5 separate regions of the Homo sapiens genome follow, and all the other regions are linked to region 2. The links come from fine-mapping of genetic effects on gene expression. A gene starts in region 2. Each other region holds a variant in brackets. All regions are shown on one strand. Distances are from middle to middle.

Evidence for each region.
Region 1: its variant is fine-mapped to the expression of SRA1 in whole blood (TOPMed, PIP above 0.99).
Region 3: its variant is fine-mapped to the expression of SRA1 in monocytes after R848 (Quach 2016, PIP 0.95).
Region 4: its variant is fine-mapped to the expression of SRA1 in whole blood (INTERVAL, PIP 0.90).
Region 5: its variant is fine-mapped to the expression of SRA1 in whole blood (TOPMed, PIP above 0.99).

What each region holds. Positions count from the first base shown.
Region 1 is chr5:140,636,039-140,642,571 of GRCh38, reverse strand. TMCO6 (transmembrane and coiled-coil domains 6) reads right to left here and starts at 3,121. Exons shown (of 12, transcript NM_018502.5): 1 at 2,960-3,121; 2 at 2,721-2,833; 3 at 792-907; 4 at 519-702; 5 at 153-257. The coding sequence starts at 3,044. RefSeq lists a silencer at 3,060-3,309. The variant C/T (reference allele first, on the strand shown) is at 3,922.
Region 2 is chr5:140,554,361-140,559,360 of GRCh38, reverse strand. SRA1 (steroid receptor RNA activator 1) reads left to right here and starts at 1,888. Exons shown (of 5, transcript NM_001035235.4): 1 at 1,888-1,933; 2 at 2,089-2,214. The coding sequence starts at 1,909. APBB3 (amyloid beta precursor protein binding family B member 3) reads left to right here. Exons shown (of 13, transcript NM_133173.3): 13 at 540-1,093. The coding sequence ends at 776. RefSeq lists enhancers at 1,459-1,518, 1,609-1,968, 1,834-2,655 and a silencer at 3,179-3,328.
Region 3 is chr5:140,644,291-140,650,823 of GRCh38, reverse strand. It overlaps TMCO6 (transmembrane and coiled-coil domains 6), which reads right to left. Exons shown (of 12, transcript NM_018502.5): 11 at 6,084-6,251; 12 at 5,420-5,839. The coding sequence ends at 5,726. It overlaps NDUFA2 (NADH:ubiquinone oxidoreductase subunit A2), which reads left to right and starts at 3,194. Exons shown (of 3, transcript NM_002488.5): 1 at 3,194-3,341; 2 at 3,462-3,568; 3 at 5,146-5,539. The coding sequence starts at 3,241. The coding sequence ends at 5,237. IK (IK cytokine) reads right to left here and starts at 2,995. Exons shown (of 20, transcript NM_006083.4): 1 at 2,900-2,995; 2 at 2,287-2,353. The coding sequence starts at 2,915. It overlaps MIR3655 (microRNA 3655), which reads right to left and starts at 2,980; the gene lies at 2,898-2,980. RefSeq lists enhancers at 2,921-3,456, 3,197-3,616. The variant C/ACACC (reference allele first, on the strand shown) is at 2,817.
Region 4 is chr5:140,492,600-140,499,132 of GRCh38, reverse strand. It overlaps ANKHD1-EIF4EBP3 (ANKHD1-EIF4EBP3 readthrough), which reads right to left. Exons shown (of 36, transcript NM_020690.6): 15 at 1,855-2,613. It overlaps ANKHD1 (ankyrin repeat and KH domain containing 1), which reads right to left. Exons shown (of 34, transcript NM_017747.3): 15 at 1,855-2,613. Among named protein-coding and RNA genes, the nearest start is that of EIF4EBP3, 52 kb to the left of the region's middle. The variant C/A (reference allele first, on the strand shown) is at 3,498.
Region 5 is chr5:140,531,779-140,538,311 of GRCh38, reverse strand. ANKHD1-EIF4EBP3 (ANKHD1-EIF4EBP3 readthrough) reads right to left here. Exons shown (of 36, transcript NM_020690.6): 30 at 2,774-2,950; 31 at 723-923; 32 at 51-226. ANKHD1 (ankyrin repeat and KH domain containing 1) reads right to left here. Exons shown (of 34, transcript NM_017747.3): 30 at 2,774-2,950; 31 at 723-923; 32 at 51-226. Among named protein-coding and RNA genes, the nearest start is that of EIF4EBP3, 13 kb to the left of the region's middle. RefSeq lists an enhancer at 4,693-4,752. The variant T/C (reference allele first, on the strand shown) is at 3,139.

The DNA.
Region 1 (6,533 bases), 82 kb before region 2:
GGTAAGGATCTGACTGGAAGCTGGGTCATCAGGTCTTCAGAGACTTTCAGCCCCTTGGCACAGGGCAGAGGCTGGAGCTACCTAACCAAAGTAGATGGAGCATGTGGGGAGGAGCAAAGGAAGGGTTGCCCAGGGAGGAAGAAAGGAGTCACCTGGATGCAGGCAGCCAAGGCTGGAACAATGCCCTGTGGCAGGAGCTGCCTTCTCACAGCCTCACTCTCCACGATCAGGTTACCCAGTGTATACAGACACAGCTCCTGAGAACAGGCAACAAAAGCACTGGGCTTGGCCTGTTTCATGCCAGGCTGCGTGTGGGGAGATGGGGAGGGGAGGTGATGGGGACGCTGGAGCAGCTATCCTTGCGGCTCACAAGAGGGTGGGGAGATGATGGGTGTAGCCATGGCTGTAGGCATAAGGGCAAACATGTTTTCTTCCTCCTACCTGCCAGCTCAAACTGGTCCCAAAAGCACAATTTTAAAATCTAAACCAAGAACAAGATAGGAAGGGACAGGGCTTACTATGAAGTCTGAGCTGTGACTGGAGAGGTAGGTGAGGAGGTAAGAAGTGGCTGGCAGGCAGGCCTCAGCAACAGTGGACTGCTCGGAGTGAGAGAGCTCATGCAGGCACCGAGCCGCCTCAAGCTGCAGCAGGGCCTGGTTGCTGGTCAGGAGCCCGACCAGGGTCCGCATGCTGCCCTCCAGCCTATGTGAGTGAGTACCAGAGCCCTGCTTAGCTTGTGGTCCATCCCTCAGAGCCCCAACTCCTCCCTCCACCACACCATCCACACTGACCGGATGAAGGTTTGCTGTGTTTCAGGGTGCTGCAAGCCTCGACGAAGGCTGACCAGAGCCCCCTCTCTCTCCTTTTCCTCTGTCCCCCGCTGGGCTTGCCGCAGGAACTGCTGCACCTGGAGTTCAGGGCAGGGAAAGGAGAACACACGGTTCACAGAAAGCAAGTCCTAAGTCTCTCTCTGCCCACTTCACCTGTGAGCCTTCCAATATCACACCTTCAGAACTTGTCATTCACACTAATGCAACTAATAAGCATCTACCTTGCAGTGGAGTGGACAGAGAATCAGAACTGAGTTCTAATACCATACCTGCCACTTACTCCATATGGGACCTGAACCTAAGTTTCCTCACCTGAAAATGAGAATAACAATATCTATCCTGCCTTCATACAGGGTTCTTTCAAGGATATTTAAACCTCTCAGCCTGGCAAAACCTACTCCTCTAGCCATTCTCCCCATGCAACCTACACTCTAACAACAACCAGCCTAACATGAGCTTTTTCTTTTTCTTTTTTTTACATTTCCGAGCTTTTGCACATGCTATTTCTTCTGCCTGGATACCCTCTCCAGCTTCCCACTCTCTTCAGGTTTCTGCTCCTCATTTCCTCTGGGAAGTTAGCTCTTTTTGAGAGACTTAGGAGTTTCTCTTGTTCCTCATGTTTCCTTCCCTTGTGACATCTGTCTTCTTCACCGGGCTGTGAGCACCTCAAAGAAAAGGACTCTATCCTTTCATCTTTGTGTACCTCAGTGACCAGCACAGTGTCCTGGCATAAAGTAAGCATACAATGGAATAGTATGACCTAGGAATAAGTTGATAATATATATGTCAACATGGTATGTACGGTAAACTATGTACGTAAACATAATACAAATACAGGGGATACTCAATGCTTACTGAATAAATCCTTTCATTCACTCATTCAATAAACACTGAGTACTTAACTATATGCCAGATAATGTGCAGGCAACCGGGTTTTCAATGACAACACAGGATCTAGGTTTTCCTGCAATTAAAGTCTAGTTGGAGAAATAACAATAGACAAACCATTAGATAATGATTAATATTCTACAAGAAACAAGTAGGTGGCCGGGCACAGTGGCTCACGCCTGTAATCCCAGCACTTTGGGAGGCCAAGGCGGGTGGATCATGAGGCCAGGTGTTCCAGACCAGCCTGACAAACATGATGAAACCCCGCCTCTACTTAAAATACAAAAATTAGTGGTGGCGCGCGCCTGTAATCCCTGCTACTCGGGAGGCTGAGGCAGGAGAATCGCTTGAACCCGGGAGGCGGATGTTGCAGTGAGCCGAGATCATGCCACTGCACTCCAGCCTGGCGACAGAGCGAGAGTCTCAAAAAAAAAAAAAGAAAAGAAAAGAAAAAAAATAGGCTCTCAAGACAGAATACCAAAAGAAACGAACGTTAGACGTAGCGAATGCCAAGGGCTTGAGACACAAATCCGATATATCGTTGCAGGAACTAAAAAGAGGACGGTGGGTAGGATGAGAAAACTGATAAAATTTGAGTTAGGAAGAGGCTAGACCATGCTATGCTTTGCAAGGCACAGGAAAGATTTTGGTCTCCACGTGTTTTTAAAGGACGTAGTGACGGTGACAAGCATAGATGCAGGGTGACCTTTTAGGAGACTGCAGTAGTATCCAGAGAGGAGGTGGTGGTGGCAGCTTCGATGGTGAGGCATGTAAAGACTCCAAAGCTCTTCAGGAGGTAAACAACTAGGACTTGATGATGGATCGATATGGGGTTGTGGGTCAAAGAGTTGTGCAGGATGATTCCCCTGTTTCTGGCTTGACCCACTGGATGCGTGGAAGTGTAGAGTGGATTGCGTTCAGGTTTGGGGCAGACCTCGAGTACTCCCGGGAGTCTGGCGCCAGCGGGCGTGGACTCCAGCGCACCCTACCTTGCCCCCTCACCTCGGTTTCCCCGAGGATCGCAGCCACACATCCCTCTCCAGCTTCCTCTGGGGCGTCGTTTCTCAGCAGCCTCTTGCTGACCAGCTGCTGCTCCCTCCGCGCCTTCCGCAGTGCTGGGGGCAGAGGAGCCGGCTGAGCGTGGGAAGGACGACCACAACCCAGAACCCGCGGCTCCGAGCCTGGGGTCTCAACTTATCCCCGACCGCCATATACCCCCGCGCTCCCTCGGCCGCCCACACCTGCCTCCCGCTCCCGCCGGCGGCGCCGTAGCTCCTCCACCCCGCAGACCGTGGGCCTGAGGCGGCCCTGCCGTCGGCTCCACATGGTGGAGCAGGAGGAGGAAAGCCGAAGGAAACAGCAGCCACAACGCTCCCAGGGGCGTAGAAGATGGCACCGACTGCGCAGCCTCAGCACAGGGCGGGAACAGGCGGGGAGGGCGCGAGGAGCGGGGTGGGTGCTGGGTGAGGGCGGGGCTCGGCGAGTGGACGCCTCGCGGGGACGGTGGGCGGGGCGAGGGCTAGAGACGCTGCACCACTAGACCAGAGCCAGAGGCGTCGCTCTGCCTCTGATTGATTTCCTGTCTTACCAATTCTAGGAAAAAAAGTCTCTCATCCCTGACCTCGAGTGACCCAAGCCAGCAGTGTCACAATCTACTCAGCAAACACAACTTCCCCACCCACAATACGCTCTAGATGAAAGTTCAAAACAATCCCGAACTGCGGGAAGCGCCATGATGCCGTTTCACTATTAATGCGGATCCCACTGATGAGAGCTGCCAAAAACGCTTGAAGCGTCATTGAATTGTCAACGAAAAGAGTCCAACTCTGTAAAATATTTGAAGAGACTTATTCTGAGCCAAATATGAGTGACCATGGCCCTTGACACAGCCCTCAGGAGGTCCTGAGAACATGTGCCCAAGGTGGTCCGGTACAGCTTGGTTTTACATATTTTAGGGAGATATGAGACTTCAGTTCATTCAAGAAATACACTGGTTGGGCCGGGCCTGGTGGCTCATGCCTGTAATCCCAGCACTTTGGGAGGCCTGGGCGGGTGGATCAGCTGAGGTCAGGAATTTGAGACCAGCCTGGCCAACATGGTGAAACCCCATCTTTACTAAAAATACAAAAATTAGCCGGGAGTAGTGGTGGGTGCCTGTAATCCCAGCTACTCGGGAGCCTGAGGCAGGAGAATCGTTTGAACC[C/T]GGGAGGCGGAGATTGCAGTGGGCCGAGATCGCGCCCCATTGCCTGGGGTACAAGAGCGAAACTCCGTCTCAAAAAAAAAAAAAAGAAAGAAAGAAAGAAAGAAATCTGGGATATGATGAGGTTTCTCTTCAAATAATTAGATCAATCTTTTATTCTTTAATTCATAGTACTCCCCCCCACACACACTTTTGTTTTCCTTTTTCTCCTTTTTGCCTTCGTTAGATGCCGAGGCACGCCACAGTACAAGACGTTATCAGTACCAGACGTTATCAGTACCAGCTCACATTCCTTTCATTATTTGGAAAGAGGACTAACTTTCTAGTTCATTACAGGCACCCCTTCCCCTTTCCTCTCCACTTTCTTTTACGTGCCCACATTACCTAAAAAAATCAAATGTTTAGCCAACCGGGATTAGTTCAGATTGTATGACCCGACCCCGGCCAATGGGGAAAGGGTACAGGGGCAGGACTTGCGTCAGGAATAAAGGCTCTCGTGCCCCTTTGTTCAGGTGTGCTCTCATGGCGACTGGCCAAGCAGACACCCCTCTGAGCAGAAGTAAAATTGCTTTGCTAATAATCCTTTGTTCGAGTGTTCAATTTCCCTTAGGATTTTGAGCGTTATTCCTAAGAGAAAGAAAAGAAAGAAAGGAAGGAAGAAAGAAAGAAAGAAAGAAAGGGAGAAAAGAAAGAAAGAAAAGAAAAGAGGAAAGGAGGAAGGGAAGAGAGGGGAGGGGGAAAGAGAGAAAGACATTGGTTTGTGGGACAACAGAAAGGCGGGACAACTCGAAGTGGGGCGGTGGGGGGCTTCCAGCTTATAGGTAGATTTTAAATTTTTCTGGTTGACAATTGGTTGAGTTTCTCTAAAGACCTGAAATCAATAGAAAGGAATGTCTGGGTTAAGATAAAGGATTGTGGAGACCCAAGTTCTTATTTGCAGAGGAAACCTTCAAATCCTAGGCTTCAGAGAGAATGGGTTGTAAAATGTTTCTTATCAAACTTAAAGTCTGTGTTGATGTTAACGGTAGAGAGGTATAATGAGGCACGTTCAACCCCTACTTCCCATCATGGCCTGAAACGGTCACTCGGGTTTAATTTTGAAAGAGCCCTGGCTGAGGAGGAAGTCCATTCAGATGGTTGTGGGGGGCGGCCTTAGAATTTTATTTTTGCTTTACAGAATGTTCACCACAATGACCATTATTCTCATTTTATATGTGATGAAAATGAGAAAGATATCATTATTTCACTTCTCTGCATAAAACTGAATTCCCATAATTTTTAGGATAAAATCTTTCACCAAATGTGGAGTGCCACTAGTCTACTAGGCACTGAGGAAACACTAGTGAATAAAAAACCGTGTTCCTCACATTCAAAATTGGAATTGTGGCCGACTTAGCCCTACATGGTCTAACCCCTGCATACCTCTCCAATCTGGACTCACCTCTTCTGGGACCTTCTCTTTGTCAACAAGCCCTGTTCTTTTTCTCCTCCACCCTACTCCCACTCTTGGGGGAGGCTCTCGCACAAGCTGTTTTCTCTGCCTGCATCCTTCCCTTTTCTTTCTACCAGCATCCTTCCCTCAACACCATTCTCAACATGTCAAGTCCAGTGTCACCTACTCAGAACCATTGTACCAATGACCCAGCTTCTTCACAACCCTTTTCACAGCTATCATTAAGTTATAGTGTAATTATTTGATGTTGTCTCCTCCCAGACCCCCTTGGCAGCTCCAGAAGATTAGGGTCCCGGTGGCACCTAAGAATTTTTACAGGAAACCTCTAATTTTTAAAAAGCCATATAACTTAGGCAAAGGTTCAATTAAGTACAAATCTAGGAAAAAGGTTATTCTTAAAACCAATTTCTTTCCCTTGAACTTAATTCTACCCCTTGGAGTTAATCAATGAAGTCTGCAATCTCTTCCACAAAACAGCATGTTAAAATATCTACAGGCCATCATTCCATCCTCCATATCTTCTCTCCCAGTATCCATCCAGCCCCTGGAGAGCCATTTACTGAGTACCTGCTGTGCACCATGCTCTGGCCAGGGATAGGGCCTGGATCTTGAGCCCTTCCTCATGCAACTGTCTGGCTTCTTTTTTTAATTTTTTAATTAAAAAAAATTTATTTTCTTATTTCCCCAAGAAAAACTTTTTTATTTTTATTTTATTTATTTATTTTTTTTTTTGAGCCAGGGTCTTGCTCGGTTGCCCACGCTGCAGTGCAGTAGTGCAATCATGGCTTATCACAGCCTGGAACTCAGCCTTAAATGATCCTTTCAGCTTGGCCTCCCAAAGTGCTAGAATTACTGGCATGAGCCACTGCACCTAACCCAGGCTAGCTTCTAAGACCCACACTTGGCCCAGCAAGGTGGCTCATGCCTATAATCCCAGCACTTTGGGAGATGGAGGCAGGTGGATCACCTGAGGTCAGGAGTTCGAGACCAGCATGACCAACATGGTGAAACCCCGTCTCTACTAAAAATGCAAAATTAACCAGGTGTGGTGGCACGTGCTTGTAATCCCAGCTACTCAGGAGACTGAGGCAGGAGACTCGCTTGAACCCAGGAGGTGGAGGTTGCGATGAGCCAAGATTGCATCATTGCACTCCAGCCTGGG
Region 2 (5,000 bases):
AGGACACCTTTGAGCTGTTCAGATGAGATGACTGGGAGCAGTTGCATTGGGGCTGGAGTTTGAGTTGTACACCTTTACCCTTGACTAGGGAATCTGCTTTGCCAGGGACTAGTCCCCACCAGTGAGAGATGGAAAAGAGGCAACATAGTGGTACATGTAATTAAGAGTTTAGGCTCTGCAATCAGAGAGAACTAGGTTTGAATGCCATTTCTGCCTTTCTCTGGCTGTGTGACCTTGGGCAAGTCATATACTCTCTGAATCTCAATTTCCTCTTTTGCAAAACAGGGATAATAACCCCTCATAAATAACTGAATTATACAAAGCACTTAGCAGTGTCCAGCCTGCCCTCCTTAAGTGTCTGATACATGTTTTATGATTTTGTTATTGAGCTACCTGGGAATGCTCTAGAAACTCCACATGTGGCTGACTACCAACCTTGTTATCAGACAGAAGCTTTGGCCAGTTCCCTGTCCTGCAGAAGCTTTCAGGGAGTCTAGAGGCAGAAAGTAGCTGGATCCTCACATTCCCCTTCTCCCTAGGTTCAGTACCAGAAGTGTCTTGTGGCCTCTGCAGCTCGAGGCAAGGCCTGGGGTGCCCAGGCCCGTGCCCGCCTGCGGCTCAAGCGGACCAGCTCCATGGATTCCCCAGGAGGTCCCCTGCCCCTCCCCCTGCTCAAAGGAGGGGTTGGCGGTGCAGGGGCAACCCCTCGAAAGCGGGGTGTCTTCTCTTTTCTTGATGCCTTCCGGCTGAAACCCTCTCTGCTCCATATGCCCTAAACTTATCTGGGAAGGCTGGGGAAGTAGGCTCTGGGTCCATGCCTAACTCTGTACCGTTTTATTCCTCAAGGCCTATAGCCTGTCACTCCTTGAAGCCTTCTCTGCCTGTCCCTCCGATCCTTGTCCACCGTCTATTTATTGCCCAATTTATTGTTTATACGGATGACTGGGAGGCACTGCACCACAACGTAGGACCCTGGCTCCCCTTTCCTTGGGTCCTTGTGTTCCTTGCCCCTGTCCAACCCTGGACAGTTGGCTCTACCTCAGTAACACTTTATAGCAAAATCAGTGCAAATAAAAATCCCTCAGTGACCTCACTGGATGTGAGTATATTGGGCCTGGGACAGGGCTGGGGGCTAACACCCTGTGTGAGATGAGTGTCTTTGTGTCTGTGCTTGATGTTGGTGGCTCTCTGTAGTCACATGACAGCATGGGTGTGATGGAGATCTGACTTCATTCAACAAACATATTTTCTAAGGAGTTCCCTGTGCCAGGCACTAAGCTGGGCACTGGGAATGTAATAAAATAGTCAAGGTCCCACCTTCTAAGACTGTCCGACAGGGAAACGAACAAGAGTCAAATAAGGCAGAAGATGTGATGTAATACACCTACGAAATCTCAGAGGGTTGTAGGGTCGTGGGAGCTCAAGTGAGACACTTAACCTGGCCTGAGACATTCCAGAAGGCCTCCTGAAGAACTGACATCTGAACTGAGAACTGAAGGAAGATGAGTACTAGTGAGGCTACCGGACGTGAATGTGGAGATTGTGCAGGGCAATGCAAGAGGAGGCTGTAGAAGTCAACCTGGCTAGATCACAGCGGGGTGTATGTGGGGCAGGAGCTTCTTTGTTTGAATTTGCTCCTGAGAGGATGAGGCCTCCTAGAGCACTGGCTCCTGGACAGCAACCTCCTTTGGTGCCTTGTGACCAGGGCCCTGATGGTTCATTAGATGGAGCCTTCGAGTCTTAGGGAGTTGCCGCAGGGTCCCCACAGCGGCTCCCGACGGTTGTGAACCAGCATCCATCCTCCACGGATTCCGGCAACCCGCCTGGCCCTGGACGTGTCTCAACTGGCCCGCGTGAGGGGCCGCCCCGGAAATGACGCGCTGCCCCGCTGGCCAAGCGGAAGTGGAGATGGCGGAGCTGTACGTGAAGCCGGGTGAGCGCAGCCGGCGGGCTAGGGCACTAGGTTGTCGCCCCGGCCTAGGCTGGGGGCGGTTGCGGCGCTTAGTATGGACCCTCTGTCTCCCCCAGCCCCAGTATAAGCTAACAGTGGAGTTCCGGGCTCGCTTCACACATCCCTCGCCTCCGCAGGCAACAAGGAACGCGGCTGGAACGACCCGCCGCAGTTCTCATACGGGCTGCAGACCCAGGCCGGCGGACCCAGGCGCTCGCTGCTTACCAAGAGGGTCGCCGCACCCCAGGATGGATCCCCCAGAGGTGCGTGGGGCCCCTGTGCTCGGAGACAGACGGAGAATGGGGGGGGGGGGGTGTAAGGCATAAGCCTGTTTGGAAGGCTTTTTTCTCTCCCCGAGGGCTCCTTAAGGAGAGAAGTTTTGGGGCTCCAGTAAGGGTCTCAGAGCAGGTGCTTTTCCGAGCCCCTTCTCTGCTGCTCAGGTTAATAAATGGTGTATTGATTTAAAAAGACTATTTTTTCATCCTAGATGATCTTATCCAGACCTGTGGCTTTTAATATAGTTTTAATCCTGAAGTTATTTTTCTTTGTTAACCTATACCTCTTGCCAGAACCGTATAGTGGCATATTCATTTGTCCATTCTGTCTTCACTTAGGTATATGATAATCGTCAGACTTCACAGTTTTTCATTCATTTAATCACTGTTATTTACTGAGCACTTCTATAAGTCAGGCACTGTTTGAGGGCGAACTAGACAGCAGTGAGAAAAAAAAAAAAAAGATCTCTGCTTTCAGGAAGTCCACGTTGCAGCACTGGAGATGGGCTGAAAGATGAAATAGTGGTGAGGGTGCTACAGAAAATAAGCGGTGATGTAATATGACTGGGTAACGAGGTGTCTGAGGGGCTGACATTTAAGCCACACAAAGATCATGTACAAAAGCATTCCAAGCAAAAGAAACAGCTGCAAAAGGAATAAGTTTGGCCAATTCAGAGACTGATGAAATACAGAGTGGCTGGCTACAGCATAGTGGGCTTTGTAAAGCAGGATGAGGAATTTGTATTTTAATCTACATAAAGTTAGAAGCCATTGAAAAGTTTAAAGTAGAGGAGAGCCACCTTTCCCCCCGAGAATTTTCCAAGCCATTAAATGGGCTGTGCCGTGGCCCCCATAAAGGGGCTCAGGTTTGGTTCTTTCAGTGGCCCTCCATTCTCCACACCCTTTTTGCTGTAGAAGAATGATACAAGGCTTGGTTTCTTAAACTCAGCAGTATTGATAGGTTGTGGCCAGATAATTCTTTGTGAGGGACTTTCCTGTGTCTTATGTTAATCAGCAACTCTGACTTCTACCCAAAAGATGTCAGTAGCATCCACCCAGTTGTGATAGCCAAAAGTGTTTCCAGACATTTGCCCTGTGGGCACTATCTTCCTAGCTTGAGAACCAGGGACTGATTTACATTTTGGAAAGATCACTGTGTCTGCTGTGTGAAAACAAGATTTTAGGGAAGTGGAAAGACAAATTACAGCTATTATGGTAATATAGGCAAGATTTAATGATTTGCATAAGGGTGGGAGTCAGGGTGGTAGGAGTTGGATGGATATGAGATGGAGAAGGTCAGTAGGAATGAGTAGATTAGGAAGAATCCATATAACTGAATTTTTTTGCTTGATATAGGAAGACTGGGGATGGTGGTTTTGGGGAGGGGGAGTTTTTTTGGGGGGCCATGTGAAGTTTAGGCTGTTACTTTTGGGGAATGTTCTAGGCCAGAATTAGAGAAATAAGTCACCATTACAAGGATGGTATTTGATGTCATGGGCTTGAATATGGCCAGGGACAGAGCCGTAGGGCACTCTAGCATTTCAAGGTTGAGAAGGAATCAGCAAAGGAGATTGGGAAATGGCCAAAGAAGAAAAAAGGAGAGGCCAGGCGCAGTGAGTCACGGCTGTAATCCCAGCACATGGGGAGGCCAAGGTGGGCAGATCACCTGAGATCAGAAGTTCAAGACCAGCCTGGCCAACATGGCGAAACGCTGTCTCTACTAAAAATACAAAAATTAGCTGGGCCTGTAATACCAGCTACTTGGGAGGGTGAGACAGGAGAATCGCTTGAACCTGGGAGGCGGAGGTTGCAGTGAGCCGACATCGCACCACTGCACTCCAGCCTGGGCGACAGAGTGATATTCTGTGACAAAACCAAAATAAAAAAAGAAAATAGGAGAGCGTAAAGACATGAATCAATAGTAATGAATGCTGCTGAGACATCAAGATAGAGACAAGGGGCCAGGCGCAGTGGCTCACGCCTGTAATTCCAGCACTTTGGAGGCCAAGGCGGGTGGATCACGAGGTCAGGAGTTCAAGACCAGCCTGGCCAACGTGGTAAAACCCTGTCTCTACTAAAAATACAAAAAATAGCCAGGTGTAGTGGCGGGCACCTGAAATCCCAGCTACTCGGGAGGCTGAGGCAGGAGAATCATTTGAACCTGGGAGGTGGAGCCTGCAGTGAGCCGAGATCGCACCATTGCACTCCAGCCTGGGACTCCATCTCAATAAAAAAAAAAAGAGCGACAAGGAACCAGTAGATTTGACAAACATAGCAGTCACTCGTGATCATAACAAGAGCAAGTCTCTGCAGTAGTGAGAACAGAAACAGCTGGAATGGGCTGAGGAGAGAATGTGAAAAGTAGAGAGAGTGACTATAAAGAGCTCACTCAAATGCTGCTGCAGAGATAAGAAATGGGACAGTATCTGAAAATGGAACATGAAGTAAGGGAGTGTTTTGATAGTAATATACTAGAGCATGTTTGTACACTAACGGGATGATTCAGTAGAGAGGGGGAGCTGATGATGCAAGAGAAGATAGTTACAGTAGGGAAGTCTAGAGAAGACAAGAGAGGCTAGGATGCAGAGTACAGCTGGTAAGATGGCTTTTGATAGGAGCAGGAACCTTTTCATCTATTACAAGAGGAAGAAAAGTGGCCACAGATGCAGGTGGGTTAGGAGGAATGGTGGTGGGAAGATGAGAGAGTTCTGTTTAATGACCTCTACTTTTCAATGAAACATTAGGCAGTGTCAGAAGAAGATAGCAAGGAAAGG
Region 3 (6,533 bases), 91 kb before region 2:
GCGGATCACCCGAGGTCAGGAGTTCAAGACCAGCATGGCCAACATGGTGATATCCCATCTCTACTAAAAATACAAAAAAATTAGCTGGGCGTTGTGGTGGGCGCCTGTAATCCTAGCTACTCAGGAGGCTGAGGCAGGAAAATCGCTTGAACCTGGGAGGCGGAGTTTGCAGTGAGCCGAGATCTAGGTATTACACTCCAGCCTGGGCAAAAAGAGCAAGACTCTGTCTCAAAAAAATAAAAAAAAGAAAAGAATCAGTCTGAAACAGACTAAGCGTTTATTAGCTGGAGACTGACTAAACTATGATGGTGTTTCCCAAAGAGGGAAAGACAGCACTAATGGTACAAGAGATTATTTTAATTGGTACACTAACAAAGACTCCTCTCTTGATCAAATTAAAGTCAGACTCCTTTAAAGCTCTCTTCTGACTAGGGCTCTTCCTTGGCCTGCTGACCTCAGTTTTAAAAAGGAATCCTAAGTCAGTTCACAGAAAGTTTTCCCACTCTTGATATCCAATCCAACTTGATATCTAATCAAGTTCCTCTTCTCCCCAAGGAAGACTTTATTGAAGACTACTGTAACAAGAGTCAAGACCATTGTAATAGAGTAGAGAGACTGAACTTAATTCCGAATACAACAGGGACAAGTGAGAATTTATAGAAAATTACTAAAAGCAACTTGGTTAGGTATGGGGGTGGAGCGGTGGTTGATTTCTTTGTTAAAACTGTGCTCAGCAGGCCACGGATGAGTCCTGCTGAAAAATGGGACTCTTTGGGGAACCTGACTAAAGTTTAGCCAAGGAGGGAATGCTTGTCACTGCTCTGAAAGATAATCTCAGAAACACTGAGCAGGGTTTAAAAAGAAGCAAGTTGCAAAAATGATATATACAGCATAATATCATTTAACTCAAATATTTTAAATCACAAAGCAATGTTGTGTTTTCCTCAGATATGCATGTATGTGTATAAATGCATTTAAAAAAGAGTAGGAGGGCCAGGCGCAGTGGCTCACGCCTGTAATCCCAGCACTTTGGGCCGCCGAGACGGGCAGATCATTTGAGGTCAGGAGTTCAAGACCAGCCTGGCCAACATAGCGAAACCCTGTCTCTACTAATACAAAAATTAGCCAAGCATGGTGGGGCATGCCTGTAATCCCAGCTACTGGGGAAACTGAGGCAGAAGAATTGCTTGAGCCCAGGAGGCAAAGGTTGCTGTGAGCAGAAATAATGCCATTGAACTCCAGCCTGGGCAACGGGAGGAAAAGATATGCCAAAAAAGGTAACTGTGGTTACTTCTAAGAAAAGGACTGAGGCTGGGCACGGTGGCTCACGCCTGTAATGCCAGCACTTTAGGAGGCTGAGGCGGGTGGATCACTTCAGGCCAGGAGTTCAAGACCAGCCTGACGAACACAGTGAAACCCTGTCTCTACTAAAAATACAAAAAAAAAAATCAGTCGTGCATGGTGGCACATGCCTGTAGTCCCAGCTACTTGGGAGGCTGAGGCAGGAGAACCGCTTGAACTCAGGAGGCAGAGGTTGCAGTGAGCCAAGATTGCATCACTGCACTCCAGCCTGGGTAACAGTGAGACTCCGTCTCAAAAAAAAAAAAAAAGAAAGAAAAGAAAAGAAAAGAAAAAAAAAAAGAAATGGACTGGAATTGGGGATGTTATCAAAGATGATTTTATCGGGGGCCAGGCACGGTGGCTCACGCCTGTACTCCCACCACTTTGGGAGGCAGAGGCGGGTGGATCACCTGAAGTCGGGATTTCAAGACCAGCCTGATCAACATGGAGAAACCCCATCTCTACTAAAAATACAAAATTAGCCGGGCGTAGTGGAACATGCCTGTAATCCCAGCTACTCGGAAGGCTGAGGCAGGAGAATTGCTTGAACCCGGGAGGCGGAGGTTGTGGTGAGCCGAGATCGCACCACTGCATTCCAGCCTGAGCAACAAGAGCGAAACTCAGTCTCAAAAAAAATAAAAAGATGATTTTACCCTTATTTCCTATGTTTTAATTTGCTATTGGAAGAAGTAATTCCTATATAATGTGTAATTACACAACACGTATAAAAAAAAAAAAAAACTTAACACCTTTCCTGCAGGAATTTCCCTTCTAATACCCTTATGCACTTGGCCTGATCCAGTTAAGGCTCACAGAGATAAAGGGCCAGCGGGTATAATTTTTTACCATCCTTGATGACAAGACATTCAGAATTCTTTCACCATCACCACCACTTTTCTATTCATTGCCCAACTCATTTCCATGGTCCTAGCACAAAATACTCACTGGTGGAAGGAGTGAGGATCATCCACATCGTGGCCATCGGGGGCCAAAGGGTTGGAGAACGGCTCACCTGACAAAAAAAATTGACGTTAATTTAATCAGTCTCTTACGTGTCAGATCCTATGCAAAAATTTGAGATATAGTAGTGAACAATACAGAACAAAAGTTAGAACAGCGACAGTGTCAACACAATGTAATAAGTGCTGAAATAGGAAACTACAAGAAGCTGTGGGAGCACAAAGCAGAGGACCCTAATCCTGCGCTGGAGGATCAGAGAAGACTTCCGGAAGATCACGTCTAAAATACTACGTAAAAGATAAATACGCGCAACCCAGGATTAAGTATGGGGACAGGACTGGGGGAAAGCGATCCACGCACAAAAGCCGCCCATCATCACTTGGAGTAGGAGTGAGGACTGGGGACGGAGTTTGGAGCTGTCGGCCTCACTTAGGACCCTGTGGCTTCTCCGGGCTCAAGCGTCACACATACATACATACACACACACACACACACACACACACACACACACACAC[C/ACACC]CGGCTTAAGCTCAGAAGCTACAATAATGCGCCAAGTGCCCCAAGTGCCATGGGGAAGAAATAACGGATGGCCTGAGCCTTACTATCTCGCTCCGGCATTTTGTTATCGTTCTTTCGCTGTCACCAACAATCGAGTCTCCAACAGCAACACCGCAGCGACAAGCTCTTTCCCACAGTGCACCTCAGAATCAACCCACACTGCTTTGCGTTCGCAGCCTTTCCGCTTCCTGTTTTTCCCTCCGACCAACCCCGAGCGCAAAGAAATTGACCTCGCAGCGGTCCTACAATACTTTTATATCATTGGCCAAGCTTTACCCCGCCCCTGCCTCATGCAGCCTATGGGCTAGGCTTTAGGGTCCGCGGTTGGTCAGACCGGAGCACTTGGCCTGAAGACCTGGAATTGGCGACTTCGATATTAACAAGGATGGCGGCGGCCGCAGCAAGTCGAGGAGTCGGGGCAAAGCTGGGCCTGCGTGAGATTCGCATCCACTTATGTCAGCGCTCGCCCGGCAGCCAGGGCGTCAGGTGAGGCGCGGCGTGGTGAGGCGGGCGGGCTTCGGGACGCCAGGGTCACGACCTCGACCTCCCTGAAGTTGAGGGAAGCCCCCGCCCACAGCACGCGCGGCGCTCTCTCCGGCCCCGCAGGGACTTCATTGAGAAACGCTACGTGGAGCTGAAGAAGGCGAATCCCGACCTACCCATCCTAATCCGCGAATGCTCCGATGTGCAGCCCAAGCTCTGGGCCCGCTACGGTGAGTGCGGGACGCCAGGGGTCTGGGGCTCCGGTAGGGGAACAAGGGTTTGAGAAGAGAAGGGACCGCCCAAGGTCGTGCAGAAACCCGTGGAGAAACTAGAACTCGGACTTTAGCCTTGCTGTTGATCTTGTTTCCATGAAGAAATTTATATTCGCAGGGTTATATGATGCGTTGTATTCCGGGCAACATAAGTATGCAGGCTGACCGAATCCTGCGTAGGGACCAGGAGCTGACGTTTTTGTAGTTAAGAATGGGCTTCAGACAGGAGAGAAGTTAGTCAATATAGTTTCTCCAAATAACGTGTAGCCAGTGTCAGTCCAGGTAGTGTGTGAGAATCTCAGTAATTTTGCACATAGAGCTGGGCCCTGTGCTGAGTGCTTCCCTGCCTAACTCATTTAATCTTCATTAGTTAGGAGGAAGCGTGTTCTTCTTTTCTCACTGTAGAGATTAGAAAACGGAATCAAAACTTTGTTTTGCACTATTGTTAAACTCTAGCTGCAACTTTAGATGCAGCTAGAGTTTAACAGGATTGAGCCTTTACATTTATTCCCCTTCCTAGAATGCACTTACCCCTCTAAGACTGGCATGGCAATGTATTGCAAAATGAAATTTTCCTATCATGTTGCCTAACACATTGTAGGTATGCAATAAATGTTTATACATACTGAATAACAGGATTTTAATCACAGCTTTTAACTATATGGTGCCCTGGGAATGACGGGAGGAGGTGGAGGAGAGTGACCACCTTAAGCAGATTGGTTCTCAGAGTAGATATCTGTGAGACACAGTAGACATTAGACATGCACTAATAATTGGAGAAGGAAAAAAGCTTCTCCTTCCAAAAGCCAGTAGACTACAGGAGGAGATAGACACGAGTAACTTTAGTGTATTGTGCTGGGTATTATGTTAGATAGCCTATGGGAGCCTAGAGAATGGGTACCCAGCTGGGTGCGGTGGTTCACGCCTGTAATCCCAGCACTTTGGGAGGCTGAAGCAGGTGGATCACCTGAGGTCAGGAGTTCAAGACCAGCCTGGCCAACATGGTAAAACCCCGTCTCTACTAAACATACAAAAATTAGCCGGGTGTGGTGGCGGGCACCTGTAATCCCAGCTACTCAGGAGGCTGAGGCAGGAGAATTGCTTGAACCCAGGAGGTGGAGGTTGCAGTGAGTGGAGATCGTGCCACCACACTCCAGCCTGGGTGACAGAGCGAGACTCCGTCTCAAAAAAAAAAAAAAAAAAAGAGAGAGAATGGGCTCCCAGCTGAGGCTGGACCCATGCAATACATTGCTCACCGTAGTTAATAATAAATGCCTACAGTGCCCCCGAAAGCTTCCCTGAAACAACCCATTGCGGCCATCCAGAATCAGCCAAAATTCTATTTGGACTTGGGCTTCCTAGATGTGTTTGAGACCTATTGTATTAATTCTAGGCATACCAAATGTATTTTGATCATATCTCTTTAATACTCTTCCTGTCTTAACAAGACTAAGATAAAGACAAAGATCTTTTATTTTACTTTGGTAGCCTCCAGGGTGCAGAATAGTTAAAGACACCTCCCTCTCTCTCTTCAGCATTTGGCCAAGAGACGAATGTCCCTTTGAACAACTTCAGTGCTGATCAGGTAACCAGAGCCCTGGAGAACGTTCTAAGTGGTAAAGCCTGAAGCCTCCACTGAGGATTAAGAGCAACAGCCCCAGAGCCTGGGCTCTGCTGGACTTAGTATAATGTGAAAAAAATGTGTTCTCCTATTCCTCATAAAGCTTGTGCTGTAAAATACTTTCTCAGGGTGTTCTTGTCCTCATCTACCCTCTACCCCTTACTGTGCAACCACTGAGGCAAAGTAGCTTAATATAAAAATAAAACTTTATTCTGTCTCATCAAAAGCTACCAGCTGCTGAAGCAAACATGAAGGGTGGCGGGGGGGCAGGGATTCTAGGGCCCCAGAGTAAGTAGACCACACTGAGTCCCTTTTGGTCCTCCTGCCTGGATAGTGCTGAGTGGAAGGGGAGGAGCTGGGACCCAAAGGTCTTGGCTTAGGTGTGGGAGCAGAGAACATGAGACCTCATTATGGTCCTAAATCTCCAAAGGCTCTACTGGACAAACAAGCTTGATGTTAAGAGAGAGGGGAATGAGTGACATTGAGAAACAAGATCACCCTTGAAGAGCTGTCTGCTGGAGAGCATACACACGATCCTGGAGCTGGGCCTCTTCCTGATGCCTTTCCAGGGCTTGCAGCCCTGACTGCTGCAGGAAGACCTGAACAGCCTAGGGGCAGGGAAGAAAATTCAACACACCTGGTCTCTGTGTCCTAAGACTCAATTCCCACAGCCTCATGGGTCAGCCTACTCCAGAGGGTGCATTCCCCAACAAGAGGATGAAGTTTCTGACATGGAACCTATATAGGTTAGCCAGGCCCAGAGAAACAACTATAGTTAGGACTGGATGGGAAGGGAGCCACTGTGTGGCTTCAGAACAGGGGTGACTGAGGATGTGGGCCAGAAACCTATACCTCTGGCTGATACAGGAACAGCAGATGCAGCAGCTCCAAACTCTGGCCTACTACTTCAGTGTCAGAAAAGGCTAGTGTGTGCAGCAAGGCGGGAAGCAGGGGCCCTGGCCACAGCCGCTGGCAGTAAGCAGGACCCTTTTCTGCAACATTGCACAGAACTGTGAGCACCTGCAGATAGACACATATATAGTCTACAAAGAATGAAACACAAAGATCATAACAATAGCTAAAATATATGACATGGTGACCACATGCCCAGGCACCATGCCAAGCTCTTCTACATACATGTTCTCATACTCCTACAACTACCCTATGATGCAAGATTATCCTCAGTTATAAGTGAGGAGACTGAAGCTTAAGGTGGTTAGTTGATTTGTCCAAGGATAAATAATCCAGTTTAAGGGACACACACCTAGATTGGTTGGGCCCTGAGGCCACACACCACCACCT
Region 4 (6,533 bases), 61 kb after region 2:
TTTTTACATGAAGATAATTTTTGTACCTGTTGGCTGATTTAAAATTTAAAACTTATTAATAAAAGAATATTGTACAATGTGGTAGGTATTAATGTCTAACACAAATTAAATTTTGTTTATATTAATAAAAAGATAATTTCTAAGCCAATTTTCTAAGTTTCATGCAAACTTTGTAAAAGACTAATTTAACAAATACTTCAGTGAAATAAAACTTGATGTTCCTTAACACTTACAAGTTCCTTTTAGAGCTATTTCTACATTCTTTAAAAAAAAAAAAGTTCTAACATAACTGAACTAATCAGTAACACAGATTTCATAACTGCAAACTGTGCACTTAATTAGGAACATTATAATGCTAGTTACAGAACACTACATGTTAAAAATGTTATTCCCAGTTCATCAGTTTCATCATTATTATTCGTAATCATACTTCACATTCTAAAATCTGTTTTTACCCAGATTAAAATTAGAATTCCAAATGAACTACAAGAATTTATTCACAATTTATAACAACTTTCAATGCTAATAATACAAAGTTAATTTGTGTCTACCAACTGAAGATATAAAAACCCAAATTAAAGAACAAAGAGCCTAACTCCTTAAAACATTTCCCAGAATTTTAATTTTCTTTAAGAAAACTAAGACATTCCTCCTCTGCACAATGATACCTATTACATATCAGAGGAGCCTCAAAGGCAATATCACAATTCTATAACCATTGGAAGTCAAACACATGCCCAATAAAATTCCTGATTTCAGTAATCTTATTCCACATTTAAAAAGATTCAGTAAAGATCAGGAAGACTAAAGGCTCACAAAAGAAGAAAGGAAACTGAGATAGCATAATTGGGATGGGAGAAGGGGAGGAGAATATGACAAGAGGCAACAGACAACAGTAAGGAAAAAAATGTTGCAATCAAGAGACAGAGGACTGGCCTGCCTTTGAATATCACTCCAGCTACATCTTAGTTCTTGGTCTTCATCCACTGTCAACAGCCATTCTGGCTGCATTTCTGAATTGGGCTCTCATGGAGGTGATACATTCACCAGCCATCTTTAGGAAGGTAAATGATTAATTGCACTGTTTTCCCACTGCTGCAAGGACAATGAAAGGGAAAGTAAACTTGTGCACCTCATTTCATATCTAGTTGTAATTTTCCACACAACAATAAACAGAAACATATACTTCAAGGTTATCAGGCCTTTTTTTCTGTGTGTGTGTGTGTGTGTGTGTGTGTGTGTGTGTGTGTGTGTGGTGTGGTGTGGTTGTGTGCTTTCATTAAGAAAGTTAATGCAAAAATCCCAATCTTCAAATCATCAAGTGACAATCATTTTAATGCACCTTATCTTCTAACCACAAATATTATAATATGGAATACTTAGTTTTATCTGAACATCCCATTTAATTGGAAATACGTAAGTTGATCTAATAAAATTACAAATTAAAAAAGCTGTGTGATTTTAAATTTCCAGACATGAAAATCAACAGCAGGAAAATTTTAAGTATAATCTTATACGAATACTTCTAAAAGCCTACAAAGAAATTCTACTTTGAGATCTCCTACCCAAGTCACAGCACACAGTGGTTTTGATACCAACGGTTTAAAACAAAGGATTGTGGCAACTTTATTTCTTTGCCTTTGCAATATGACAAAAAAGAAGAGGGGAAAACACACTTTTGTGTGTTAGTGCTATTGAGCATAGTTAATTCACTTCCAAAATACTTCGAGAAATGGGTAATTTTACAAAGTTCTAAAATGGAAACGTACAAAGTCTACGTTTTTGGAGGGGTATATAAAGAAGTTCAGCACACAGATTAAAGAGAAATTATTACAGATATATTTCTTAACCCACCTGCTATCAGGTCATCAAGAGTGTCGGTAAGCGTCTGAGCTGGAGTTGCAACCATTAGTCCATCTGGTTCTTGAACTAACAGCCCCTGATCATGTCCAGTAATAGCAATCTGAGGCTGTCCTACAATCTGCTGATTACCTGATACTTTCTGAAGTTCAAGAGAATTTGTCCCATTAGAACCTAAGTCACTGGAAAAGTTACACTGTGGAGATGATAAAGGCTGGACTGGGACAAAATCAATCTGTTCTGCCGATGGTGGAGACTGTTGCTCATCATCAACATCATTATCTTTAAATAAGATTGTGTCAACCTGAGGTAACTCTGAAAAGTGATCCTCTGGGAGACTACCATCTCCTTCCCCTTCTGGGAAGACTCCTCTATGAGAGCACTGTTGGTGTAGAGACACTGTGTCTTTCTGACCTTTGGTTTCCAAGTATTCTTTGGTAAATTGCTGCTGTGTTTTCATCTGCAACTGCCTTTCCACTTTCTGCAGTTCTTTCAATATTTTCTTCTTCTTCTGGACTTGCTCTTCTCTGTTCTTTTTAAGTTCTTCTATCTTATCTTTGTTCAGAGGTTCACCTTGAATTAACTCCAGTGACTTAAGCTGTGCTTTTTCAATAGCACTAATTCTTTGTCCCAGTTCATTCAGCTTGCCTTCAGTCTCCTCTACTATGCACTCCAAAGGCTGGTATGGGTGAAAAGATGGCAGTAGGTCCTGATCTGCTACCTGGAGGGAACTGGACTTCTGCTTGGATGTACCTAAGCACATGAAAAATGTTTGAAAGAGTGCCATGCTAAAAAAAAAAAAAAAAAAAAAGAAAAGAAAAAAAAAAAAGAAAACCAGCCTCCCCTCCCACACACACGGACCTCCCTCCCAAAACCCTTATAACTAATGTTATAGAATGAATGTTCAGAGTCACACCAGTGTTAGGCAGGTTAAAGCCTATACTCATCTATTTCAAGCAGCACAAACTAGGATGTTGCTAATTCAAAAACTGTGAAGTTTTAAAAATCTACTTTAGGATAGGAGGATTTTGGAAATTAAGTCAGGGGCGGGGAAAAGGAAAACCAAGAGGCAAGAATCTCAAAATTCTGCTGATTAGATTGGACTTTTTAAAGAACACCAAATCTAAAGCAGTATCAAAATAGCGTTGAAAATACCAGAAATGTTAACTGCCCATTTAGAACAATCATTCTTTTAGCAATATCAACTCTGCAAGCAATGCAGAGTTAATGCAAAAGACCAAAACTTACAGATCAAAGTAGGGGATAGTGTTTTTCAGTCAAAATATTTTTCTTCTTATATTGAAATATAATGTGAAATCAGTTTTTTCAAGACATGTCTTTCTAAAATTCTCCATTAAATATACCTTTAACACATCTGTACTGGAACACTGTTAAACTTACTATGCAAAGGACAACTTGCATTTAAATGAACACTTCAAGTAAATTCTGTCTATGAGAGAAACAATAAATGATCCTAGGAGAAAATCAGACTTCCCATTTAGGGTTACTCATGCTGACAGTATATGTTAACAAACAATGGCAATGTATATTATTTTAAGGTTTTAAATTACACTTAAGTTCCTTCCTTCATAACAAATCAGCTGAAAAATAATTATCAATATTAATAATCCTAACAT[C/A]TGGACATGAAATGAAGGACATAAATTTTTTGACGTACAATACCTACTCTGAGGCAAATCTAAGGCTTAATCTTGTTTAGAAGTAGGACTAGGCCAGGCACAGTGGCTCACGCCTGTAATCCTAGCACTTTGGGAGGCAGAGGCAGGCGGATCACAAGGTCAGGAGATCGAGACCATCCTGGCTAACACGGTGAAACCCCGTCTCTACTAAAAATACAAAAAATCAGCCAGGCATGGTGGCGGGTGCCTGTAGTCCCAGCTACTCAGGAGGCTGAGGCAGGAGAATGGCGTGAACCCGGGAGGCGGAGCTTGCAGTGAGCCGAGATTGCGCCACTGCACTCCAGCCTGAGAGAGCGAGACTCCATCTCAAAAAAAAAAAAAAAAAAGTAGGACTATTCAGCAACAAAAAGGAACAAACTACTGATTCATGCTACAACATGAGTAAACCTCAAAAACATTATACTAAGTGAAAGAAGCTAGACACAAAAGACCACACATTGTGTAATTCCACTCATATCAAATCTGCAGAGACAAGGCAAATCTATAGAGACAGGGACAGTAGTGGCTGCCTGAGGTTATAACAGTGAAAATGAGGATCAATTGCAAACAGGCATAAGAGATCTTTTTGGGCAGATGGAGATGGTCTAAAACTAGATAGTGATGATGGTTACACAACTCAGTAAATTTACTAAAACTCATTGCATTGTACATTTAAAACAAGGGAACTTTATGGTATGTAAATTAAACAATAAAGCTGTTTGAGAAAAGCTGGGTAAAAAAGTTATCTATTATTTTGAATTGCAGTCAACATATATGAATAACATAGGTAATTTGGGAATTTTTAAAATAAAATCATCCATTGTATTAAAAATGATTCTCAAGTCCAAAGGAAAAAAGATCATTTAGAGACATGAAATGTTCTGAATTTCAAAGGGGTGACAAAACTACTGAAGAAAAAAAAATTAGAGATTCATCTACTTTTTTGCTAGAATAGAGATCTCAAAACTGCAGGTAGCTCAAACATATGCAACATGTGTCATTACTAAAAAAGTCTAAGTTTTTCACCTACATACTGTCTTTAATAAGGTAAGATGACCACAATTTCAATATCACTGCAATCACTTTCAGAGGCTTAGTTATTCCTTAAATTGCAAAGTACACTGTCTATATTCAATTTATATATATATAATTTTAAGAGATGGGATCTTGCTATGTTGCTCAGCCTGGTCTTGAACTCCTGGCCTAAAGTAATTCTCCAGCCTCAGCCTTCCTCAATTTATATTTCTTTCTGAGTAAAAATGATGGAAAAAGACTTTATTCTTTCAGAGCAAAAGCAATTAGATTTGTGAGCTAATTTTATTATTACTTTCCTAAGACCATATAGGAGTCCCTGTTTTGATTTACAGTATTTGTTTAAAGTGCCTAATGACAATCAACAAGAAAAGGAAGGTAAATGGTCACAAATAGCAATGTACAAATCCACAGCAATAGCAAAGAAATATTCAGTCATGTAATAAATTCAATGACATCACTCGAGTACATTTAGAAGTTCTACAAAGACTGAATGGTCCATGGTCCTTTAAACATCCATTAGTTTCAAAACACCCTTGTATAGCTACTAAGCAATTTGTATTTAAGATTCAGGAAAACTAGGTAAGAGTTCAACACTAACCAGACTGGTTAGTAATTATGTTATGACCCCACTGGACATTCACAGATTTAAAATCTTTATACATAGTATAATCCAAAATAAGAGTAGAATTTTGAGGACAGTAACAGATAGGAATGGCCCTGTCTATCTTGTTAACAAATAATATGCAAGAAGCGTGGAACACAAGATTACTAAGAGTAATTTATGAATAGACAAACTATAAGCCCAGAACGTATGTAGCATTAAAAATGGAAGATGGCAAAAATGATGCATAAAAAGTGGTTCATCTCAAAATAGCCATGGAGTTAGTGGAATTGCCTAAAGACACATCAAAGGACTAACACAAGCTATAACATCAAGAATAAAACAGATTGGTGAAAAACAGATAATGTCGCCTAATTAGTCCTAGAAACTAAAGCAACATCTACAGTTTCTGGGTAGAGATTAAGACAAGTATTCTTTTAGCAACAAAATTTTCAACAGGTAGTAAGTAGTATTATAAGATACCAGAAAATAAAAGGGTTCTATCTCCTTCAAACAGCTTACAGTGTCAGATACAAAGACATCTATTCACTGGTATCAGTGAATGATATCATAAAGTACTATTTAAAAATAAAGGTGGCCGGGTGCGGTGGCTCACACCTGTAATCCCAGCACTTTGGGAGGCCAAGACGGGTGGATCACCTGAGGTTGGGAGTTCTAGACCAGCCTGACCAACATGGAGAAACCCCGTCTCTTCTAAAAATGTAAAATTAGCTAGCCCGGTGTGGTGGCGCATGCTTGTAATCCCAGCTACTCAGAAGGCTGAAGCAAGAGAATCGCTTGAACCCAGGAGGCAGAAGTTGCAGCGAGCTGAGATCGTGCCAATGCACTCCAGCCTGGGCAACAAGACTAAAACTCCGTCTCAAAGAAAGAACCACAGGTAAAGTCGCCATTTCATCTTTTTGGTTTGGTTTCTATCCTATTCCTTTGCCTCTCACTTTCCCTCCATTAACAAAACTAGAAAAAATCTGTATTAGAAGCCATGATGTAGTGACAGCTTAAACATGGCCTTTATTTTTTTATTGGCAGTGAAGGAATGAGGTGGACATGTATTTGCCAAATATTTAGTTTTTTATTGGATTGAGCTTAATCCTATCAATCATTTTTGTGTCTAAAAATAATCAGTGCATTGTACAATGGAAAAATAATGGCCAATGGGAAAAAAACATGATATACAGAAGGATCTAGACTAGATTTCATATTTCCTTACTTGGTTTTGTCTATAAAACTTAAACCTTGTTCTGTAATTCCCTTGCTTACATCATCACACAGCACCCTACTAGAATGATTTTTAAACAGCATTCCCAACTGGATCTCAAATAGAAAATCAGGTTGAAAAAGTA
Region 5 (6,533 bases), 22 kb after region 2:
CATTGGCTGACAAAGTGTCAATCAAGTTACAGTGATGTTTGTCAACTCACTTTAGAAAAATCCACAAAACCACTTGCCATAGGCTGATGAAAAATGTTAGAGGGGGCTACCATTCCAGAATCATCTCTCTCCATTGGCTGATGTTGGGAGAATGTGCTTGGGTCTGATAATTGTTGATGCATTGGATGGTTCCCCATCACAGATTGCGACCAACCTGATAAGCCTTCTGGAAAGAATAATTGAAAACAAAGTTTTAAATTTATTTGGATAAAACAACAAAACATTACCATTGTTATTACCAAACATGACCAAATGTTACTGAAATCTTTCCTCTGAAGAGCTCAAAGCGTATTTATCACAGTCTTGCTAGCCAAAAAAAACCAGTTCCTGAAAAACTAGGTAAAGTCCTCTGAATACTCCACTTTACCCTGTCTTTTAAAAGATTAAGTACTCTCTGAAAGAACTCAAATGATTATTTAAGAGAGAAAGGACACACACTTTGAATCTTTTGTTTCTGATTAACTCTATGTATTACCTCAACCAATATTCCAGACTCTGAAATTGGACTGAACTCCTCAAAGATATAAACACCCTTCCCTAATTGAGTGTTAAACATAGGAACTAAGTTTTTTTTGTTTGTTTTTTCTAAGGAACTAAGTTTTAATGGCAAACCTACAGCTTACTTAAGATATCCCTCCAGAGAGAGAGCAAGGCAATTGTACCTGACACAGCATTGACACCAAATGACCAGATTCCACTGTGTCCAACGGGAGCGACAAAACTGGTCCCCGCCGGGGCTTGTGCAACAGACCCTCCTTGCCGAATTCGGGCCAGTCTCTCTGTTCCAATTGGGGGAGGTATCTTTCGATCTTGACTGGCACTGACTCCTTTTGGTTGGCCCAACGTTGGTGGGGCAGAAGTGGCTGAAAGAGGTGAAGATGATCCCGAAGAAACAGATGGAATAGGAGAGTCACCTGGTGGCAAAATATTTCTCTATTGTTTTATTACATATAAAAAACTATAAGAATATGAGAAACCTTGTTGGAAAGATCTATTCCACAACATAAGTTCTGTAAAGAAAATTTTCATTTTAAAAGAACATTCAAATAAAACATAATTTCTATAGACATTATCCTACACGATTTCTGCCTATAATAAGTATACAACAGTCTAAAAAATGTTTTCCCAATTGAACTAAACAATGCTAGAAAGGAAGCAGGCCACATTTGTTTTTATTCTAGCTCTAAATAATCTGCTCAAAACATTACTGTCACTTTTTTTTTTTTTTTTGAGACGGAATTCCGCTCTTGTTGCCCAGGCTGGAGTACAATGGCGTGATCTTGGCTCACTGCAACCTTTGCCTTCTGGGTTCAAGCGATTCTCCTGCCTCAGCCTCCCGGGTAGCTAGGATTACAGGCATGCACCACCTCACCTGGTAATTTTGTATTTTTAGTAGAGACGGGTTTCTCCATGTTGGTCAGGCTGGTCTCAAACTCCCAACCTCAGGTGATCTGCCCGTCTCAGCCTCCCAAAGTGCTGGGATTACAGACGTGAGCCACCACGCCCAGCCACATTTGAAAATTAACTAAAATGTGGCAATATTTGCACAGTACCTAGCATATTTTCTAGAAAACATCTGGTGACCCTCTATACTTGTTAGTCTTTTCTTTTTTCCCTTTCTACAGCCCTTTTTGTTTCTATAAGGAAATAAGGTCAAATGTTAGCAAAGCATTGTACGATTTTGATTCACAGCTTTGTTTCTTAATGGAACTCTTGGGTGATTTGGGTAATTTTCCTTGTCAAAAAAGCCAATACTCACTGACTACCTCATGATGCTCATTAAAATAAAATAAAAATCCAATTCCGTTCAATTCCACATACTTCATCTGTTCTAAACATTGAAATAAATAGAACAAAGGGGTCAGGCAGGTGGCTCACGCCTGTAATCCCAGCACTTTGGGAGGCTGAGGCAGGTGGACCACCCAAGGTTAGGAGTTTGAGACCAGCCTGGCCAACATGGTGAAACCCTGTCTCTACTAAACATATAAAAATTAGCCAGGCGTGGTGGCAGGCACCTGTAATCCCAGCTGCTCGGAAGGCTGAGGCAGGAGAATCGCTTGAGCCTGGGAGGCAGAAGGTGGAGTGAACCAAGATCGTGCCACTGCACTCCAGCCAGGGCAACAGAGCGAGACACTCTATCTCAATCAATCAATCAATCAATCAATAGAACAAAGGAATATTTTAACTTATAAAAGGCAATAGTTTCATAAAATGTAAAAATACATGAGAAATCACACCAAACTGACCATATACAAAAATTCAACTTCTTTCCAGATTTAAGAAATAATTTTACAACACTGCTTCCAAAGGGTCCTTTTGTAAAACTACTTGCGGTACTTTTTTTTTTTTTTTTTTTTTTAATAGAGACAGGGTCTTGCTGTTGCCCAGGCTGGTCTCCAACTGCTGGGCTCAAGCGATCCTCTTGCCTAGGCCTCCCAAAGTGCTGGGATTACAGGTGTCAGCCACTGCACCCAGCCTAGTACCTCTTTTCTTGATCCAAGTTCTACTGTAAAACATTTTTGGCTTGAAAGAATAATTCTCAAGTTTTCTATGCTAAAAATGACTGACAATTTTTTCACATGACCACAGAACAAACCTTGGGCATCTGTATACCACTTAGTTTACTAAAGTTACAACATGGTGTTGTAACTGAAATAAATGATTTAATAACTTATTCAAAACTCTTTGGGAAGAGTTCCTCCAGGATTCCTACATGAGTTTGAGGCGCTTGTCCAAGGATGGGGAGAAAAATGTTGTCTGTTGAAACTAGGAGTCCCAACAGGAGCTGGCCCTTGCAGGAAAACCCTTGTTCCTGGTATGCCGGAAAAACTTGCCAGAGGAGCAGAAGAGGAAGATGGGGAGCTGCCTGATGGGTCAATGGATGGTAACCCTGAAATAAAACAGGTCCAAGACATCCAATTAGCTAAAACTTTAAAATTGAAAGCCCAAGAAGACTTCCACCAAAGTGAGATAAGCTGTAAAAATAACCAAACAAATAAATAAAAGATAGCATGTGGCTCATTTTCATAGACCACAGCAAAAACAATCCATCTATGTGATACTGTATGGCCAAATCCA[T/C]TTTTTCCTTACAGTCCAGAAGAATATCGCCAAACAGCACTAGATACAGGAAAATGGGCTCAATGTTTAAGAGTGTCAGTCACCTGGAGTAATGTTCTAGATGAATCTCAAAGCTTTTAACTGGAGGGGATATGAAATGGGAGTATGCTGTAACTAAGTAGCACCCAACAATAACTCCTGCATTCCCTTTTGTAGTCAAAGTACAGCTTTTCATCTGTATAACTATAGTCATTTTCTATAGAAGATAAGTAACAAAATCTACCAATGTTTCCTTCCTCACAAAGAGGAAAAGCCTACTACTGAGGATAATTTCAGTATTCTATCTGATAGAAAATATCAACAGTTGCAAACTATTATCAAAGTTTCTATCTAGTTTGTATAAATCTGAACTTAGCCATCTTCTCAAATTCCATTGCTTTCTCTGGAAAATGTATTAGGAAAAGAGGATGAAGGTCTGGAAAAGGATTATGGTTTATTATTTCAGGAAAAAGTAGTTAATATCAACATCGACTGTCAAAATTTCTTTTAAGCAGGTCTTATTTTCAGACTTTGATTTCCCCATCATTTAAAAAAAATGACTTCGAGATGTAATTCACATACCATATAATTCACCCATTTAAAGTATATAATTCATTGGATTTTAGTATACTCACAGGATTGTGCAACCATCACCACAATCAATGTTAGAACATTTTTGTCTCCCTTAAAAGAAACTCCATACTCATTACCTGTCATTCACTGGGTCCTCACCCTCATATTTCCATTTCTTTTTTTTTTTTTTTGAGACGGAGTCTTGCTCTGTCACCCAGGCTGGAGTGCAGTGGCACGATCTCAGCTCACTGCAAGCTCCGCCTCCCGGGTTCATGCCATTCTTCTGCCTCAGCCTCCCAAGTAGCTGGGACTACAGGCATCTGCCATCACGCCCGGCTAATTTTTTGTATTTTTAGTAGAAACGGGGTTTCCCCATGTTGGCCAGGATGGTCTCGATCTCCTGACCTCATGATCCACCCGCCTCGGCCTCCCAAAGTGCTGGGGTTACAGGTGTGAGCCACGGCACCCAGCCTCATATTTCCATTTCTAAGCAATCACTAATCTTTCTGTCTCTATAGATTTGCCTACTCTGGACATGTGGGTAACTTAATGCATTTCCTACTTATTTCAGACTTTCATTATTGTGGTAGGCAACAGTAGGCAATTTATTACTGTGCTTTCCTGACAAAAAAAATTAAATTTTCTAGTGCTAACCAAAGTAGATGTTAGCAAAACCTAGAGGTAGTGAGAATACTGAATGTGGCTTTAAAAAGTCTGTAAGTAGGAAATGAATCATTTCTTTCTTTTTTTATTGAAATGAATCATTTCTATAATAACTTCTTGTTTTTTTTTTTTTTTTTTTTTTTTGAGACAGGGTCTTGCTCTCTCACTCAGGCTAGAGTGCAGCAGTGGTGTGATCATGGCTCACTGCAGCCTCGACCTCTGGGCTCAAGCAATCCTCCTGCCTAGCCCCGCTGAGTAGCTGGGACTACAAGCGTGTACCACCACACTGAGCTAATTTATTTTTATTTATTTATTTTTCTTGAGAGGGTGTCTCGCTCTGTTGCCGAGGCTGGAGTCCAGTGGCGCGATCTCGGCTCACTGCAAGCTCCGCCTCCCGGGTTCACGCCATTCTCCTGCCTCAGCCTCCCAAGTAGCTGCGACCACAGGTGCCTGCGACCACGCCTGGCTAATTTTTTTATATTTTTAGTAGAGATGGGGTTTCACCGTGTTAACCAGGATGGTCTCGATCTCCTGACCTCGTGATCTGCCCGCCTCGGCCTCCCAAAGTGCTGGGATTACAGGCGTGAGCCACCGTGCCCGGTCCCACACTGAGCTAACTTTGAAATTTATTTTTTATCAAGACAGGGTCCCACTATGCTGCCTAGGGTGGTCTCGAACTCCTGGGTTCAAGTGATCCTCCTGACTTGGCCTTCCAAAGTACTCAAATTACAGGTGTGAGCCACCACACCTGGCCACTGTCAATATTTTTACAGTGAAATCTGTCAGTCTTTTGTAAAGATCATGATAGCTTTTTTTTTTTTTGGAGACAGAGTCTTGCTCTATTACCCAGGCTGAGTATAGTGGCACAATCTCAGCTCACTGAAACCTCTGCCTCCCAGGTTCAAGCGATTCACCTGCCTCAGCCTACTGAGTAGCTGGGATTACAGGCACCCACCACCATGCCTGGCTAAATTCGGTATGTTTGGTAGAGACGGGGGTTTCCCCATGTTGGCCAGGCTGGTCTTGAACTCCTGACTTCAAGTGATCCACCCAACTCAGCCTCCCAGCACAGGCGTGAGCCACCATGCCCAGCTAATCATGATAGCTTTTAAAGATCATGATGTGCATTTTGGGGACCTAAATGTAGATGCCACATAAATGTACTTTTTAATAGCTTTACTGAGATTTAATTCACAAACCATACAATTTACTCATTTAAAGTTATACTATTCAGTAGCTTTTTGTATATTCACAGAATTGTGCATTCATGACCACATCAATTTTAGAACATTTCTGTTATCCTAAAAAGAAACTCTGAAGCTGGGCATGGTGGCTCACACCCGCAATCCTATCTCTTTGGGATGCCAAGGTAGAATAATTGCTTGAAGCCCAGGAGGTTGAGGCTGCAGTGAGCCATGATCACGCCACTACACTCCAGCCTGGGCAACAGAGTGAGGCCCTGTCTCAAGAAAAAAAAGAAAAAGAAATTCTGCACCCCTAAGCTATCACCCACCCTCCAATCACCCCTTCATCCTAGGTAACCACTAATCTACTTTCTGTCTCTATGGATTTGCTAATCTGGATGTTTCACATAAATGGAATCATAAAATAAATATCTGGTCTTTTGTGACTGGCTTCTTTCATTTAGTAAAATGTTTTCAAAGTTCATCCATGTTATAGCATGAATCAGTACTTCTTTTTTTTTTTTTTTTTTAAGACAGAGTCTCGCTCTGTCACCAGGCTGGAGTGCAGTGGCGCGATCTCAGCTCACTGCAACCTCCACCTCCTGTGTTCAAGTGATTCCCCTGCCTCGGCCTCCTGAGTAGCTGGGACTACAGGAGTGCACCACCACACCCAGCTAATGTTTTGTATTTTAGTAGAGACAGGGTTTTACCATGTTGGCCAGGCTGGTCTCGAACTTCTGATCTCATGATCCAACCACCTCGGCCTCCCAAAGTGCTGGGATTATAGGCGTGAGCCACCGCGCCTGGCCCTTTATTTCTTTTTATACCAAATACAAAATATTACATTCTATAGATATACCACATTTTGTTTATCTGCTTGTCAGTTAATGAACGTTCGGTTGTTTCTACATTTTGGCTATTATGAATAATGTTGCTATGAACATTGGTGTGCCAGTT